Linked DNA regions of Homo sapiens: region 2 is linked to region 1. Evidence: fine-mapped expression QTL. Tissue or cell type: esophagus mucosa. Region 1 holds a variant in brackets; the other region holds the start of a gene. All regions are shown on one strand. Distances are between the middles of the regions.

Region 1 (8,104 bases):
CGTGGCGGGTAAGGCCGGGAGGCTGGGGCGGGTACGGGGCCGGGAGCGAGGGGCGGCGCGGGGAGGGGATGCAGCTGTCGCCCGCACAGCCGTGTCTGGACGCGGCCCCGCAACTCGACCCCGTCCCGCCCCCAGCCAGCTGCTGAACTAGGCGGCCGGGGACGGCATTGAGCGCTGGGCGCGCGCGGGAGGGACTGTCCCTGGGGCACGGGTCTGCTGGGGCGGAGTCCGCACGGTGTCAGCAGCCGCTTGTCCTCCGCAGCATCCGCAAGGCCCGCACCCAGGCTTTGGCCCCAAAGGTGGGGACCAGGCCCAGGCACGGCCCGTCCCCGTTCCAGACCCTGATCTGAGCCAGCTCTTGGTCCCGGCTACCGCGTCCTCCAAACACAACGCCCCTCCCCCCATGCCGCCTCCCCCCGCCCCCCACATCCCAGCAACGCGTGCAGAGCTCCCTCCCCCAGGCTTGCTCCCCCGCCCGGGCCTGGACGCCCCCAGAGGCCTGAACGCTCCTGCCCCGCTTCTACACCCCCAATCCAGGTGCACAACCTTCAGGTGCAGAACCCTCCTGCCCCTCCTGCCCCACCTGCCACTTCCCAGCGCCTCCCCCAGGCCTAAGTCCCTGATGCTAGAGGTTAAACCGCGCCCCCCCAGGCCTCAGTGGGCCTCCAAGATGCTGGGGGCACCCTGATCCCACAAAAGATGGGGGTCCCTCTGCTCTCCAGCCTTGAGCCCTCCGCCTCTGGGCACCCGATCTCCATGGAAACTAAGGGCCCTTTCCCTCTCTTCCCGCAGGTTTAGCCCCATGAAGATGAACTGGGCACCCGCGAATGGCTGGGCTCTGCTACAGGAGGCAGCCTTCCTCTGCGTGCGGCCGCGGAGGGCTCCGCGGGGGCTCGAGAGGGGCCTCGAGGGTGTGTGTGAGGCCGGCGCTGTGCTATGGTGCCCCGGGCTCCTCCCTGCGCGTGGCTGCGGCCGGGGCGGCGGGCTCAGGCTGGAGAAGGGCCGCGGGACCCGGGGAACGCGGCCTGGAGGACGAGGAGGACTGGGTTCCCGGAGGCAACAGGACCGGCTCGGCATCTACAGCTACTGTACGTGGACTTCGGGCGCTGGACCCACGGGCGGCCTGTGCCTCTGTGTCGGGCTGGGTGGCGCCCTCAGTGCCCTGGGGCTGCTGCGGCCCTAGGCCTGGCTGGGCTCGGTGACCACATCTGGCCCCCGGGCCGCACCGTCCCCCAGGATCCTCCGGCCTGGGCTCCCCCTTCCTCCCTTGCCCACAGTCTTGGAGCCCCAGTGGGTGCAGGAGCTGCTGGCTGCCCCTGTGGACCCGCCATCCACCGTCCTGCCCATGCTGCCTCGCCATCCACCTGCCTGCCCACGCCGCCTCAGCCTCCCACCTCCCACCTAGAGGAGACCATGGGCCCTGCCCCACCTGCTCCAGGATGTTAGGGTCCCCTCAGCCAAAAAGGCAGTGGCCTGTGGCTCCTGTACCAACAGCCCAGCCACACTCCAGAGCCGCCCAAAGGGAGGTGCCAAGGCCAGGAACCCAAGCCACCCCAGCTCCCCATGCCTGCCCAGGGGCCGTGGTAACCCATGGACAGGGAGGTGACCTCAGGCTGGTTCTGCCACTGAGGCCCTGAGGAATCAGGCCCTCCCCAAAAGAAGTAATGAAATGGACCAAAGGACTTAAGAATTTGGGGGGAAGTAAGGGGAAAACGTTAGGTGCTAACCACCTGCCCAGAAGAGTGGATCTCACAGCCCAGGAACATTCCCAAGCAGGAAAACCATCCGTCCAGGAACCCTAACCCTAAAACTAAGCACAACCCCTACCCCTAACCCCTGACCCTAACGCTGACCCTTAACCATAACCCTTAACCCTAACCACTAACGCAAAACACTAACCCTTAACCCTAACCCCTAACACCTAACCCCCACCTCAAGCACTAAACCCTAAGCCTAAACCTTAACCCTAACTGCTAACACTAACCCATAACCCTAAGCCCTAGCCCCAACCCTAAACTTGACCCTGAACCCAAGCCTCCAACCCAACCCCGACACAAACCCCTAACCCTAACCCCTAATTCTAGCCCTAATCCCTAAATCCAACACCAACCCTTGACCGGACCCCTGACCCCTAACCCTAACCTCAACTCATAACCTCAACCCCTACTCCTACACCTAACCCCTACCCTAATGCTAGCCATAAACCTAACACCCAAACCCAAACTCGAACCTATGCCTACCCCTAAAACCCTAGCCCGAACCGTAACCACAAATCCTAACACACAACGCTACCCCTAAACCTACCACTACCCCACCCCAAACCCTGACACCGAACCCTGAAGCTAACCCTAACAACACTAAGCCTAACCTGCAACCCTTAACCCAACTGTAACTCCTAATGCTAACCCTAACCCTAACCCTAACAACACTAAGCCTAACCCCTAACCCTTAACCCAACTGTAACTCCTAATGCTAACCCTAACCCTTAACTCTAACCCCTTACCCTAAACTGTAACCCCTAACCCTAATCCCAACCCCAACACGTAACCCTAACCCCTATCCCCTACCCTAAAACCCTAACCCTTACAAACCTTAGCCAAATCCCAAACCCTAACCCCCACCCCTGACCCTAATCCCCTAGCCCCCAAACCCTAACCCCAATACCCTAACCCCAACACTAAAACCCTGACCCTAACCGTAAAACCCTACCCCTACCCCGACCCTAGCCCAACCCTAACCCTACCCCAATCCTTCCCCTACCCCTAACACTAACCCCAAACCCTAATTCTAACCCCACTCCTAACCCCAAAACTAACTTCTAACCCCTAAACCCTAACCCCAACCCCAACTCTAACCTTAATCCCTAGCTCTAATCTGTAGCCCTAACCCTAAACCCTAAGGTAACCTTTTATAGGTTAGGATTCGAGGCTTCGTATTTAGGACAGGCAGGTGTTCTGATGTCTCCCACTCACCTGCACGGTAAAGTTCTTCCCCTGGCTCTTCACAACCAGTCGCGATGCATCGCGGCCTCCCCTGGCCGGTGAAGGGCTGGGTTCTCCCGAAAGCCTCTGCTCCTCCTCCCTCCTCCCAGGGCCCTCCGGGCCTCCACGGTGGCCCCAGCGCGGCAGGGACCGTGCAGAAGGGACCGTGGGCTTGTGGCCGGCCTCGGCCACTGTGGGCATGGAGCTCACGGGAACGCGGCCTAGGGGCAGGCTACGCTCCTCTGCGCGCGCAGGAACAGCGGGCCCAGCGGGGGCTGCCGCAGATTTCACTCGCTGGGGCCCGTGCACTCCCGCGGCGGTGTGGTCCCGCAGAGCCGCAACCTCATGAGGCTGCCAGGGCCACAGCGCCTTGTGGAGTCGTCATCCGTCAGACACGCACACTTCACAGGAAGCTTCGGCGCTACACATGCGTACTGCTCGTTGGTGGGGAGGGCCTCCAGAACCAGGGCCGGTCCCCTCGGAAGCCAGCGCACATGCGCGGGGGCACCCGGCAGCGGGCCAATCGCAAGCCTGGACGGCCGCACGTGGCCCTGGCGGGCTTCCCGCCGCGTTTGTAGCCCTCGCGCCTTTACGCATGCGCACTAGTGCCACGCAGGCCTGCCGGAGAATTACCTCACATCTCCAGGCGCGCGCAGGAGTGCATTGCGCAGGCGCGCTGCCTGGAGTCCTGCCCCCAGCGGCGGTTGCTCCAATCACCACTGGAGGCTCCCTCCCGAGGCACCCTCGCTGGCGAGCTGAGAGGAAATGGCGGGGAGGTCCCTGACATCGAAGGCCGAGCCCACCGCAGGAGCCGTGGACAGGGCTGAGAAGGCCGGAGGTAGTGGTGGGAGGCAGGGAACTGTGCGTGAGGGTCTGACCTCGCCGAGGCGGGGCAGGGTTGGGGCGCGGGTGGCGGCTGCTTCTTCCTGTCAGTCCTGATGCTGCTGATTGAGACTTAGCGGGTTTCTTCAGAAAAATTTCGGCCAAGATGAGGGAGTGCTTGCCCGCACACCCCCCACTTTGTCTTAAAGCATTGAACTGTTATCATAGTTGCTCCAATTTTGGTTTAGGTAATTAGTCAAAAGACATCCCTTCCCGTTGTCCCACAGACTTTACATACACACCTCTTAAAACAAAAAGGA[T/C]ATTTTCCTGACGCTCCCAATCCCAAGGGAATTCCTAATTCCACCTTCCTCTCCCTAGAACCAGCAAGTGTCCAGATTTCCCAGTCGCACTAAACTGGTTCTTGACAGTGGGGCCCCCCACCCAGCATCCCGACGCCCCGGGGAGCCGGGGGAGGCCGACTCCACGCAGATCCCCCGTTTGTTTCTCCCTGACCCCGACCTGCCATAGTGGCTCCTACCTCACCCTGGGAAGGGAGGGGACAGGCAGCTGGTCAGAGTTGTACAGAAGTCCAGAAATTGCAGCCCAACAAAGAGAAAGGACACTGTCCTGGCCGTTTCCACTTCAGGACACTGTGTGCCTCTGGGTGTTCTGTGAGGATTTTCAAACTTACAGAAAAGTGGAGAGAATTGTACGGTGACGTCCCTCCTGCTGTCACTCAGCTTGTCATTCTGTCCTGAGATCATCTGTCCCCCTTGAGTTAAAACTCTGCAATTAACAAACGTCGGTGGCTGCCTCCAGCCCTACCTGCGTGAATGCCATGGCAGGTGCTCTGTCATGTTCTTACAAAATGAAGGTTTGAATACTGAAACAAGCTTAGCACAGAAAGCATCCCTACAGTGAGATGTGGCACAGTGAAAGCCCCAGCGAAGGACAAAGCAAGTAAACAGGACAGACGCAAACGTATCCCTTTCATTAAGCACCTGCTGGCCCGCCGGTGTGCTAGCCTTTCAGTATCATGGCTCCATGTTCCTCACATAACCTAGTATATTTAGGTAAGTTTTAACCAATGTCGCTTGTGCCTTAGTTCAAACTGCTACAACAGAAATGCCTTATTTCTCACAGTTTTCGAGGCTAGAAGTTCAAGATCAAGGTGCAATTCAGCGTCTGGTGGGGGCCTGCTTCCTGGCTATAGACTTCTGTCTTCTCATTGTGTCCTCATGTTGGGGAAGTTGCTGCAGACCTCTCTGGTCTTATAAGGGCACTAATCCCATTGCTGAGGGCCCTACTCTCATGACCTAATCACCTCCCAAAGGCCCCACCTCCTAATGCAGTCACACTAGGGGGTTAGGATTTCAACATACGAACTATGGATGGGGGCACAAACATTCTATAGTGACCAGCTACAGAAGAAATTTAAAGGACAAGATTCCAGTTTTAGTCTATCTGTTTTAAAAAGGAAGCAGGGATGTTATCTAGGGTCAGTGACACTAGATACATTTTAGTAAAAAGTCTATTAGTCTTCACCTAACTGGCTGCAGTTATTACTAGAAAGGGGAATGACTGGGGAAAGGGAATGTTGGTGTTTCAATTTTTTCTTCATACTTTTTCACACATGCCAATTACTTGAATAATTTAAAACTTAATGCAAAAATTTATGAGCAGTAATTTGTGTAAGATTTCAGGTGGGACCAAAATGAGGGGACTCCATAAACTCAAAAATAAGCATTTCACAAAATTTTATGCTTGATTTTTTTTTTTTTTTGAGACGAGATTGTGCTTTGTTGCCCAGGCTGGAGTGCAGTGGTACAATCACTGCTCACTGCAGCCTTGACCTCCTGGCCTCAAGAGATTCTCCCACCTCAGCCTCTTGAGTAGCTGGAATCACAGGTACATGTCACCATGCCCAGATAATTTTTTTAAATTTTTTATTTGTAGAGAGAGGGTCTTGCTGCATTGCTCAGGCTGCTCTTGAACTCCTATGCTTGAGCAGTCCTCCTGCCTCAGTCTCCCAAAAGTGCTGGGATTATGGATGTGAACCACTGAGCCTGGCCTTATGCATGTATGCATGATTTTTAATGGCTGTAAATGATTTCATCCTGTGTATGTGCTATAATTTATTTAACAAATCCCCTAAGGCATATTTAGGCTTCTTCGAGTTTTTCACTATTATAAACAATACAGTGATGAACACCTTGCCCATTAGCCATATCCAGAATTACTTAGGACATAGTCTTAGAAAATAAGATGCACCCAAACTTTTGATATTTACTATCAGAAAGTTTGTAAGGAGACACCTTAATTTTGCATATCTGGTTGACAAAGATAAACACGTTTGGAAACATAGGTGATTGGTAAAAATGAAAAACTGGGCATCTTGTATACATCAGTGTAAGGTAATTTGGTATTGTCAATCAAAACTGTTACAAACTTTGGTCAGGTGCCTCTGAGCCTTCTCAACCGTGCCTCGGCCTTGGCCTTGGCCTGTGATATGGTTTGGATCTGTGTCCTCACCCAAATATGTTGAATTGTAATCCCCAATGTTGGAGTTGGGGCCTGGTGGGAGGTGGTTGGATCACAGGAGACCAATTTTATTTAGATAGTGACTACCTATCTTTTAACTGGATCTCTGAGCTCTGGGAAGAGGCCACACTGAATCCTGGGTCTGCAAAAAGGGAGAATTATTATGAGGCTCGACCACATGGATGCTTTTACAGTGTACTTAAAAAACATTAAAAAAATATTTCTAAGTGTCTAAAATATACTCTTCCTTAAAAATGCAGGAGTAGCTTCTGTTGCAATAATTAATAAACAAAAAAATCAGGTAACACAATACAAAAGCAAACAGTTTAGGAGCTGACATGAACTTGTGTGTTTACACTCTTGGGGATACACAAGGAAAAACAATTTTCTCCACAAAAGGGAGTCTGGTGCCTTCTCCATTTTCTTTAAGGAACCTCAGGCTATTATAAACTATTTTAGGTCCCTCATGCAGCAGAGCGTTCAAGGGAAAGGAGAGACAGCAGAACTATATGAAGAAAATAGCATTCAGTCAACTGAAAAGAAAAAAAACTTTTGCCCAAAAAACACAAGGTCCTAGGAGAGAGAAAAAAGAAAAATCATGAAGCCCTTTTAAATACACACACACACACACACACACACACACACACACACACACACACACACACACACATTGGATGTTAGCTTTTAATTAAGATGACTTTTAACCATTTGAGTTTCTTTTTAAAAAATTTTTAAGATCTCATCAACATATTTCAGCTAGGACAAATATCTGCTATTTCAGAAGTACCAAGTATCAAACCAGAAAGGTCTTGATTTAGGAACCAAACCCAGGCTGTCATGGAAAAAAGAAGACAGAACCTTAGCTATGGAACTGCAGTTGGGGTGACAATCCTTTCTCTTTCAGTTTGGCCTGGCTAGCAAAAAGGTGGCCTTGTTATGTAAATAAATCCCCTTAAGTAGTCAAAATCAAAAATCTTCCCCCCCTTTTTTCCTTTTGCTGGCTGTTTTTTCTTCCCCCACCACCCCTTTTCTGGTGGGAATTTAGCCACTTCAGAGGCCTTGTTCCACATAATTTGGAACTTTCCTTTGGATTTGATCAAGTCAGAATTGGCCAAACCCAATAGGAAAAGGACCAAAACAACAAAAACAGAAAGAAACAACAACAAAAAAAAATACCAGTTAAGCAAAACAAACAAATGATCACACAACTTGTATGGTTACTGGACACTCTAATGATAAGGAAAAATTAAGACCAGCTGGTTGTTAATTTTACCTTTAGCCAAGACAAACCCCAATTCAGTTACTTACCTAGGGATGGGTCTTAGGCTGAAGACTGCTCTCTATCATCTTAGAAGCAGGAAAAAAACCCTCAAACTTGTCTTCCCTGTTGGGAGCGAGTTCAAACTCCAGAAAGGAACTTTCATGGAAGCAGGAAAACTTGCCTTCCTTGTTGGAAGCAAGAAAAACTCCAAAAAAAGAGTAGAGTTGTTTAGAAAAATAAACTTTGGATCTGGAGCGAATTTTGGGAAATGAGGGATTCCCTGGATGGGGGACTTCCAGAACTCAGCAACTTGTCATATTAGTTTGAACCATAAAGATAGCTCAAGCTGCTAGCAAGCACTGATAGGATATTTGTCAAAGGTCAGGGGCACCTCTACTCAGAATCCCTTTGTGGTTGCCAAAATGTGAAACCCAAAAATCTGAGACAGGTCTCAGTCAATTTAGGAAGTTTATTTTACCAAAGTTAGGGATGCATGCCT
Region 2 (8,104 bases), 110 kb after region 1:
ATGCTCTGCTGCTGGTCTCCTGAAACAAGGTTCCCCGCAGGATCCGTTCACACTGGGCCCCAAAATGGTAGGAGGTCCTGGCCAGGTGGTTCAGCCTCAGAGGCAGGACGCTATGAGGGGGTCCTCACAGCCACATAAAATGTGAGGGACAGCTGAGGACCCTCGAGCCAGACCTCAAAGGGAAAGCGTGTACCTGTCTGTCATTTGTCTAAGAAACCATCATCAGCTACCTGTGTGGGCCTCAGGCGTCCACAGACCCCGCCCCCGCTCGGCTGCTGCCTCCCCCACGCCTGGGCCGCACTCTGCTTCCTTCCTCCAATCTCTGACTCTCCCTGGCGTTGGTTTTTCCACAGCTGAATCTTACAGTCAGGATGGCCCCGGTGCCCAGAGAGGAGCCCCTCCCAGAGAGAGCTCCAGACCCACAGCCTCCCCGCCCGTCTCCGAGACCCGCCATCCTCCCAGTCCTCCTCTGCGTCCTCCCAGTCCTCCTCCTCGTCCTCCCACTCCTCCTCCTCCTCAGCCCCGTCCCCTTCACTCCTCCCTACTTACTGGAGCACAGCGCGACCACCACCCATGCGTGGGGGCACGGGCTCTGGCACCATGAGCCAAGGCTGCACTCCCAGAGGGAGGACTCGTTGCCCCGGCAGGACACGTTGTGAAGCCAGGGCTGGGCCATCTCTCCAGGCAGCGGGACATACTTGGGGGCGCCCACGGCAGGGCCGCAGCCCAGCTGCCTGCACACGACAGAGGCCTCTGCCAGCGTCCACTCCTGGTTGCACACGTATCCCCATGCCCCGTGGTGTCGGACCAACACCACTCCGTCGCACGTGCTGTGTCTGTACGCCAGCCTCAGAGCACCTGGTCCACCTACAGACAGACAGGTCCAGTTAGAGGGGCCAGAACCAACCAGAGGCGCAGGAGGAGATGGCAGCCGCGGCAGCAGGGAACGGCCTGTGAGGCCTCAGCAGCGAGTCGGGCTCCTCTCACCCCACCAAGCAGTCCCAGAGAGGTGATGGGCGCGGCTCACAGAGAAACCCTCACCCCATGTGTCTCCCCGGGGGCTACTCCCCTCCCTGGCCCTCTGGAGCCCCAACATCCTGGAGGACCCCATCCCCCAGGCAAGGAAGTCCCCTGTCCTCCTGGGTCTGCAGCTGGGTGGGTCCTCCCACCCACTCTCTGCCTCCCAAGCATCATTCCCCTACTTCCACTGGAGGCCCTGTGGTCTCCAGCCCACCACTGTCACACCTGCCCCACCCACGTGACTGTCCACACCCCTTGGAGTGCCCCGCTCACCCTTCGGTCCTGTCCTCTGCAACCCTGAGTATCCAGGAAAACCACCCCTGCCTGCCCTCCCACTATGCCAAACCCAGCCCCACTACCCCACCCATACCGGCTTCCAGGCAGGATCTCACCCTCCGGTCTCTGAGCATCTCAGCTACTCCAGCACCTTCTCTCCCACCCGCCACGGAGGCACCCCTAACCACCCTCTCCAGGCCTCTGCAACCCCACATCAACACAGCCACCCCGAGGAAAATGAAGCAACCAGTAGGAGGAAGTCCATGTGGGTGGTGCTGTGTGGTCCCAGAGCAGCCTCCAGGGCCCCTGGAGGACTCTCCACACCCAGAAAAGAGCCTCCCCGATGGCAGTCAGGAGCAGAGGGGGGACCCTGCCTGGTCCAAGATGAAGACCTTTCCCTCCCACCTCCTGGGGAGCCTTGAATCTCCTCTCTCTCAGTCTTCATCCATCCCTCCACACCCCCCAGCCTCCTCATCACCCTCCCCACCTGGTTCTTCTCAGGACATGGATGCGTGCTGGTGTCTGCAATTTTTTCTTTTTTAGACAAAAGTCTCGCTCTGTCACTCAGGCTGGAGTGCAATGGCACGATCTCAGCTCACTGCAATGTCCACCTCCAGGGTTGAACTGATTCTCGTGCCTCAGCCTCCCATGTAGCGGGAATTATAGGCGCCCACTACCACGACTGGCTAATTTTTGTATTTTTAGTAGAGATGGGGTTTCACCATGTTGGCCAGGCTGATCTCGAACTCATGACCTCAGGTAAACTGCCTGCCTCAGCCTCCCAAAGTGCTGGGATTACAGCCATAAGCCACCACGCCCGCTATGAATAGCTTTTCATTTTATATTTTCTAAAGCTATTTCTTGTTGTAATAGAGAATTCCGGCCCTTGTGCATGCGATCGTTGACACAAAAGCAAATCCCTTCAACCCCAGGCTTCCATCCATCTGTGGCCACATTGCTGCCTTTCCTTCAAATCCTAACCTCCTCTGCACTTTCTGCAGCTGCCCACAGACTTCCACCCCACCGCTGGGGATGTGGCTCCGTCCAGCACCAGGTCACCGCCCTGCTGGGCACCTGGACCAGCCTTGACAGTGAAGTGTTCCTCAGCCTCAAGGGCACCCTCCCCTGCCTCCCGCCCAGCCCCACACTCACATCATGGCTCCATGCCCACGTACGCAGGTCCCCGGGGCTCCCTCTCACCTCCAGCCTCTCCTGCTGTTCCTTCTAGCTAGACCCCCCTCTCTACACCTCCCTGCCCCTGACCCAGCAGCCCTTCCACATGGCTTCACACCCCAGTGTCTCCACCTGGGTGCAGCATCTCCATGGGACCCCATGCTCAACCTCACTGCCAGATGCAGCCAACCCTCCCACCTCCTTCCCAGGACCTCAGCCCTGCTCCAGGGCACGTGGATGGAGCAGCCCCCGCAGGACCCCTCAGGACTCTGTTGATCAGGGTCATTGGGACCAGACACTGGGCCGTGTCCCTCATTTTGTCCAGGGCCTGACCCAGCCCTGAACCCTGGGTTCCAAGCAGTGGGGCTAGGGTCTGGGGGCCCTGAGGTCACAGGGATCCAGCCATGTGGAGTCACCTCCCTCCTGCCCCAGCATGTCCCACCCACTCTGGGCTGAGTGAGACCCAGGCAGACGGCAGGTCACTGCAGGGACCCTCATGCCCCGGGGCCTGGGCATCAACAGAGCTGATGCCTCCAGAAAGTTCCATGGATGAAGGAAGCAGAAACTTACCAATGGGGACTGCCCAGAGATTCAGAAGAAGGGGCCCGAGTCCCAGGGTCCAGAGAGCTGCCCTCATGGTCCCACAGCCCTCTGGGCTTCAGCAAGCTCTCGCTGCTTAGCTGGGGCAATGGCAGAGGTCACAGCCCAGAGTCACATATACAGAAGTGGGAGCTGCCAAGGACCTCCAGGGTCCAATGGGGACAGCCACAGCCTTTCCAGAGCGAATCAGCAGCTCTGCCTCTCAGCCGTGAGCAGAGCAGCCAATGCCTTGCTGGCCTGAGCATCACCAGACATGGGGAGGGTGCAGGCTGTGGGTTTCCTCCCACACTGATCAAGCTGCTGATGGGACTAGACCCAACCATCAGGCAGAGATGGTCCAACCTGCCCACAGCACAGCATCAGTGAAGCCCTGCGTCTCTGCCCTCCACCCGGGCCCGTCGGCTTCAGCCATGCCACCACCACAGAAGGCAGTGGCCCCAGACAGCCAAGGAGGCGTCCTCTGTGCCAGCAGATGGCACTAGCAGAGTTAGGGGTAGGGGTAGGATTAGGGTTTGAGTGGGAGTCCCAGCAGCACCAGAAGAATGACACGGAAGAGCTTTGCAAGAACTCTGAGAACTGAACTGTCGTTGGAATGAAAACCCTTGAGAGAAGATACAGTTAAGAATCACTCATCATATGAAGACCCAGGGACACGACCATTTCAGTAAGAGACAACCAACTAAGGGCGGCACCAGGAAGAGTCAGGTGTCAGAATTATCTGACAAGGATTTTAAAACAGGCATCATAAAAATGTTTCCACAACAAATTGCAAATGCTCTTGAAATAAGTGGAAAAATTGAAATCTCAGCAAAGAAATAGAAGTTATAAAAATGGAACAGGCTAGGCGCAGTGGCTCACGCCTGTAATCCTAGCACTTTGGGAGGCTGAGGTGGGCAGATACCTGAGGTCAGGAGTTCGAGACCACCCTGGCCAACATGGTGAAACCCTGTCTCTACTAAAAATACAAAAATTAGCCGGGCAGGGTGACATGCACCTGTAGTCCCAGCTACTCGGGAGGCTGAGGCATGAGAATGGCGTGAGCCCAAGAGGCGGAGGTTGCAGTGAGCTGAGATTGCACCACTGCACTCCAGCCTGGGTGACAGAGCAAGACTTTGTCTTAAAAACAAAATGAAACAGTGGTAAGGATGTAGAGAAATGGGACCTCTCAGATTTTGCTGGTAGATTCAAAAATGGTGCAACTGCTTTGAGAAAGTTTGGCAGTTTGTCAAAATGTTAAACAGAGATACTCCTGGAAGATACCACTTGAGCCCAGAAGGGGCAACTCCACTCTTGGGTACATATCTAAGAGGAATGTAAACTTATGTCCACACAAAAATCTCTACATGAATGTCCATGCAGCATTATTCATAATAAAGATGAAAACAGCTCACGTGTGCATCCACTGATAAATGGAGAAACAAAATGCGGTATGTCCACATTATGGAATGTCACTCAGCCATAGAAAGGGAACAAGGCACCCACACAGGCTGGATGTGCGTCAACCTTGAAAACATGCTCAGTGAGAGAAGCCAGATGTAAAAGACCACATACTGGGTACGATTCCATTCATATGAGATTTCCAGAATAGGCAAATCAATAGACAAGGAAATTAGATTCATGGTTTCCAGGGGCTAGAGAAGGAGGAAAGAGAAAATGACTGAAAATAGTATAGTGTTTTTCTTTTTTATTTTTATTTATTTATGTATTTATATATTCATTTATTTATTGGGAGACAGAGTCTCACTTTCTCATCCAGGCTGGAGTGCAGTGGCATGATCATAGCTCACTGCAGCCTCAACTTCCTGGCCTCAAGTGATCTTCCTACCTTAACCTCCTGAGTAACTGGGACTATAGGTGCATGCCACCATGTCTGGCTAATTTTTTAAATTTTTTTGTAGAGATGGAAAGCCTTGCCATGTACCCAGGCTGGTCTCAAACGCCTGGCCTCATCGGACCCTCCCACCTTGGCCTCCCAAAGTGCTGAGATTACAGGTGTGAGCCACCACAGCCAGCTACAGGATTTCTTTTTCAGGTGATGAAAATGTTCTGAAATTAGTGGTGCTGGTTGCATAATCCTGAATATACTAAAATCCTCTGCACCACACACTTTAAAAGAGTGCATTTATGATACATGAACCTCAATTAAATTGTTTTTAAAATAAATGATTACAGAACTGAAAATATAATAACTGAAATGTTAAAAACTCAATGAACGGACTAGTAGAATGGAAATGACAGAGGAACCAGTGAACCTGATGATACTTCAATAGAATTTACACAGTGCAAACAACAGAGAGAAAATAGAAAAATTTATAGAGCCTCGGGGATCTGTGGGACAATAATAACAAGACTTAATCTTTGTATCTGGGAAATTCAGGAAAGATAAGAGAGCGTATGGGGCTGAAAATGTATTTAAAGTAACAACTACTAAATATTCTCCAAATATGGTGAAAGGCACAAAACTACAGATTCAAGAAGCTGAGAAATCCAAAATAAGATGAATTCAAAGACATTCACACCAAGACACATCATAATTAAACGTTTGGAAACCAAAGGAAAAAAAAATCCTAAAAACAGCCAGACAAAAAGGATTGCACTGACTATAAAAAATGGTAAAATGTGAATTACAGCTAATTTCTCGTCTGAAATGGAAGCAAGCAGGAAGTGCCTTATTTTTAATTGACATGTAAGAATTGTACATATTTATGGGATACAGAGTGATACTTTGATACATGTGTGCAATGCATAATGATCGAATCAGGGTAACTACCAAACCCATCAAACATTTATCATTTATCTGTTGGGAACATTCAAAACCCTCTCTTCTAGCTATTTGAAAATACACAACAAGTTATTTTGAATTATAGTCACCCTACAGAGCTACAGAACACTGGAACTTATTCCTCTGTAACTTTGTATTTATTAAACAACCTCTCCCTATCTGCTTCTCCCCTAACCCTTACCAGTCTCTAGTAACTCTAATTCTACTCTACTAATATGAGGTCAATTTCTTAGTCCCGACATGTGAGTGACAACTAGCAGTATTGCAGTATTGATATTTTTGTACCTGATTTATTGCACTTAATAGAATGTCCTACATGCACACACTGCCACAAATGGCAAGTTTTTTTTTTTTTTTTTGAGATGGAGTTTCACTCGTGTTGCCCAGGCTGGAGTGCAATGGTGCAGTCTCGGCTCACTGCAACTTCCGCCTCCCAGGTTCAAGCGATTCTTCTGCCTCAGCCTCCCAAGTAGCTGAGATTACAGGCACATGGCACCACGACCAGCTAATTTTTGTATTTTTAGTAGAGACAGGGTTTCGCCATGTTGGCCAGGCTGGTCTTGAAATCCTGACCTCAGGTGATCCACCTGCCTTGGCCTCCCAAAGTGCTGAGATTACAGGTTTCTTTAATCTACTTATTTTTTTTCTTGAGACACCCCCAGGGTCTCATTCTGTGGCCCAGGTTGGAGTGCAGTGGCATGATCTTGGCTCACTGCAACCTCTGCCTCCTGGACTCAAGTAATCCCCCTACCTCAGCCTCCCTTGTAGCTGGGACCACAGGTGCATGCCACCACACCCAGATAATTTGTTTTTTTTTTTTTTTTTTTTTGTAGAGATGGGGTTTCACCATGTTGCCCAGGCTGGTCTCAAACTCCAGGACTCAAGCAATCCACCAGTCTTGGCCTCCCAAAGTGCTGGGATTACAGGTGTTAGTCACCATGCCCAGCCTATTTCACTCTTTTTTATGGCTTAATAGTATTCCATTGTGTATATATATTACATTTCCTTTATATAGTTATCTATTCATGAACACTTAGGTTGATTCCATGTCTTGTCTATTGTGAATAGTGCTGCAGTGAACATAGGGGTGCAGATATCTCTTCAATTCACTGATTTCCCTTCCTTTGGATAAATACCCAGTAGTGGGATTGCTGGATCATATGGTCGTTCTATGTTTATTTTTTTTTGAGGAAACCCCATACTGTTTTCCATAATGGCTGTACTAATTTACATTCCCACCAACAGTGTGTAAGTTTTACCATTTCTCTGCATTCTCACCAGCATTTGTTACTGTTTGTCTTTTAGATAAAAGCCCTTCAAACTTGGGTGAGATGATATCTTATTGTGGTTTCAATATGCATTTCTCTGGTAATTACTGATGTTGAGCTTTTTTCCATATATTTTGGTTCTTTATATGTTTTCTATTGATAAATGCCTATTCAGAAACTTTCACCCATTTTTTTATCGACTTAATTTTTTTTTTTTTTTTTTTTTTGCTATTCAATTGTTTGAATTCCTTATATATTCTGATTATTCACTCCTGGTCAGATGGATAATTTGTGAATATTTTCTCCCATTCTGTTGGTTGTTACCTTGTCATTTGTTTCCTGTGCTGTGCAGAGCAATTTTAGATTGATATATGCCCATTTGTCCATTTTTGCTTTCATTACCAGTGCTTCTGAAGTTTTGTTCATAAAATCTTTGCCCAAACCAATGTCCTGACTCATTTCCCCTATATTTTCTTCTGGTAGTATTATAGTTTGGATCTTACATTTAAGTCTTTAATCCATTTTGAGTTGATTTTTATATGGTGAAAGATAGAGGCCTAGTTTTATTTTCTGCATATGAATATCCAGTTTTCCCAGCACCATTTATTGAAGAGGGTGTACTTTCCCCAAGTGTGTTCTTGGCACTTTTGTCAAAAGTCAGTTAGGGCTAATGTGGATTTGTTTATGGGTTCTGCATTTTGTTCAACTGCCCTGTGTGTCTGTTTTCATACCAGTACCATGCTGTTTTGGTTACTATAGCTTTGTAGTATGTTTTGAACCCAGGTAGTGTGATTCCTCCAACTTTGCTCTTTTTGGTCAGGATTGCTTTAGCTATTCAGAGTCTTTGTGGTTTCATAGGAATTTTAGGAATCTTTTTTCTATTTCAGTGAAGAATGTAATTTATATTTTGATAGGAATTGCATTGAATCTACAGATTGTGTGGATAATATGGTTATTTGGACAATATTAATTCTTCCAATTCATG

Direction of the effects. Alleles are on the strand shown, and positions count from the first base shown. SD is a standard deviation of normalised expression in the study named.
For the expression in esophagus mucosa of the gene that starts at base 3,159 in region 2, C is the high allele of the variant in region 1 and T is the other (moderate effect, 0.42 SD a copy in GTEx).

What was found. PIP is the estimated chance that this variant, and not a neighbour inherited with it, causes the effect.
Region 2: it holds the start of SCART1, and the variant in region 1 is fine-mapped to the expression of SCART1 in esophagus mucosa (GTEx, PIP 0.99).

The regions. Positions count from the first base shown.
Region 1 is chr10:133,561,172-133,569,275 of GRCh38, reverse strand. It overlaps SYCE1 (synaptonemal complex central element protein 1), which reads left to right and starts at 3,693. Exons shown (of 13, transcript NM_001143764.3): 1 at 3,693-3,819. The coding sequence starts at 3,747. It also overlaps the pseudogene SPRNP1. The variant T/C (reference allele first, on the strand shown) is at 4,124.
Region 2 is chr10:133,449,000-133,457,103 of GRCh38, reverse strand. SCART1 (scavenger receptor family member expressed on T cells 1) reads right to left here and starts at 3,159. Exons shown (of 12, transcript NM_001396050.1): 1 at 3,040-3,159; 2 at 550-867. The coding sequence starts at 3,106. RefSeq lists an enhancer at 3,385-3,434.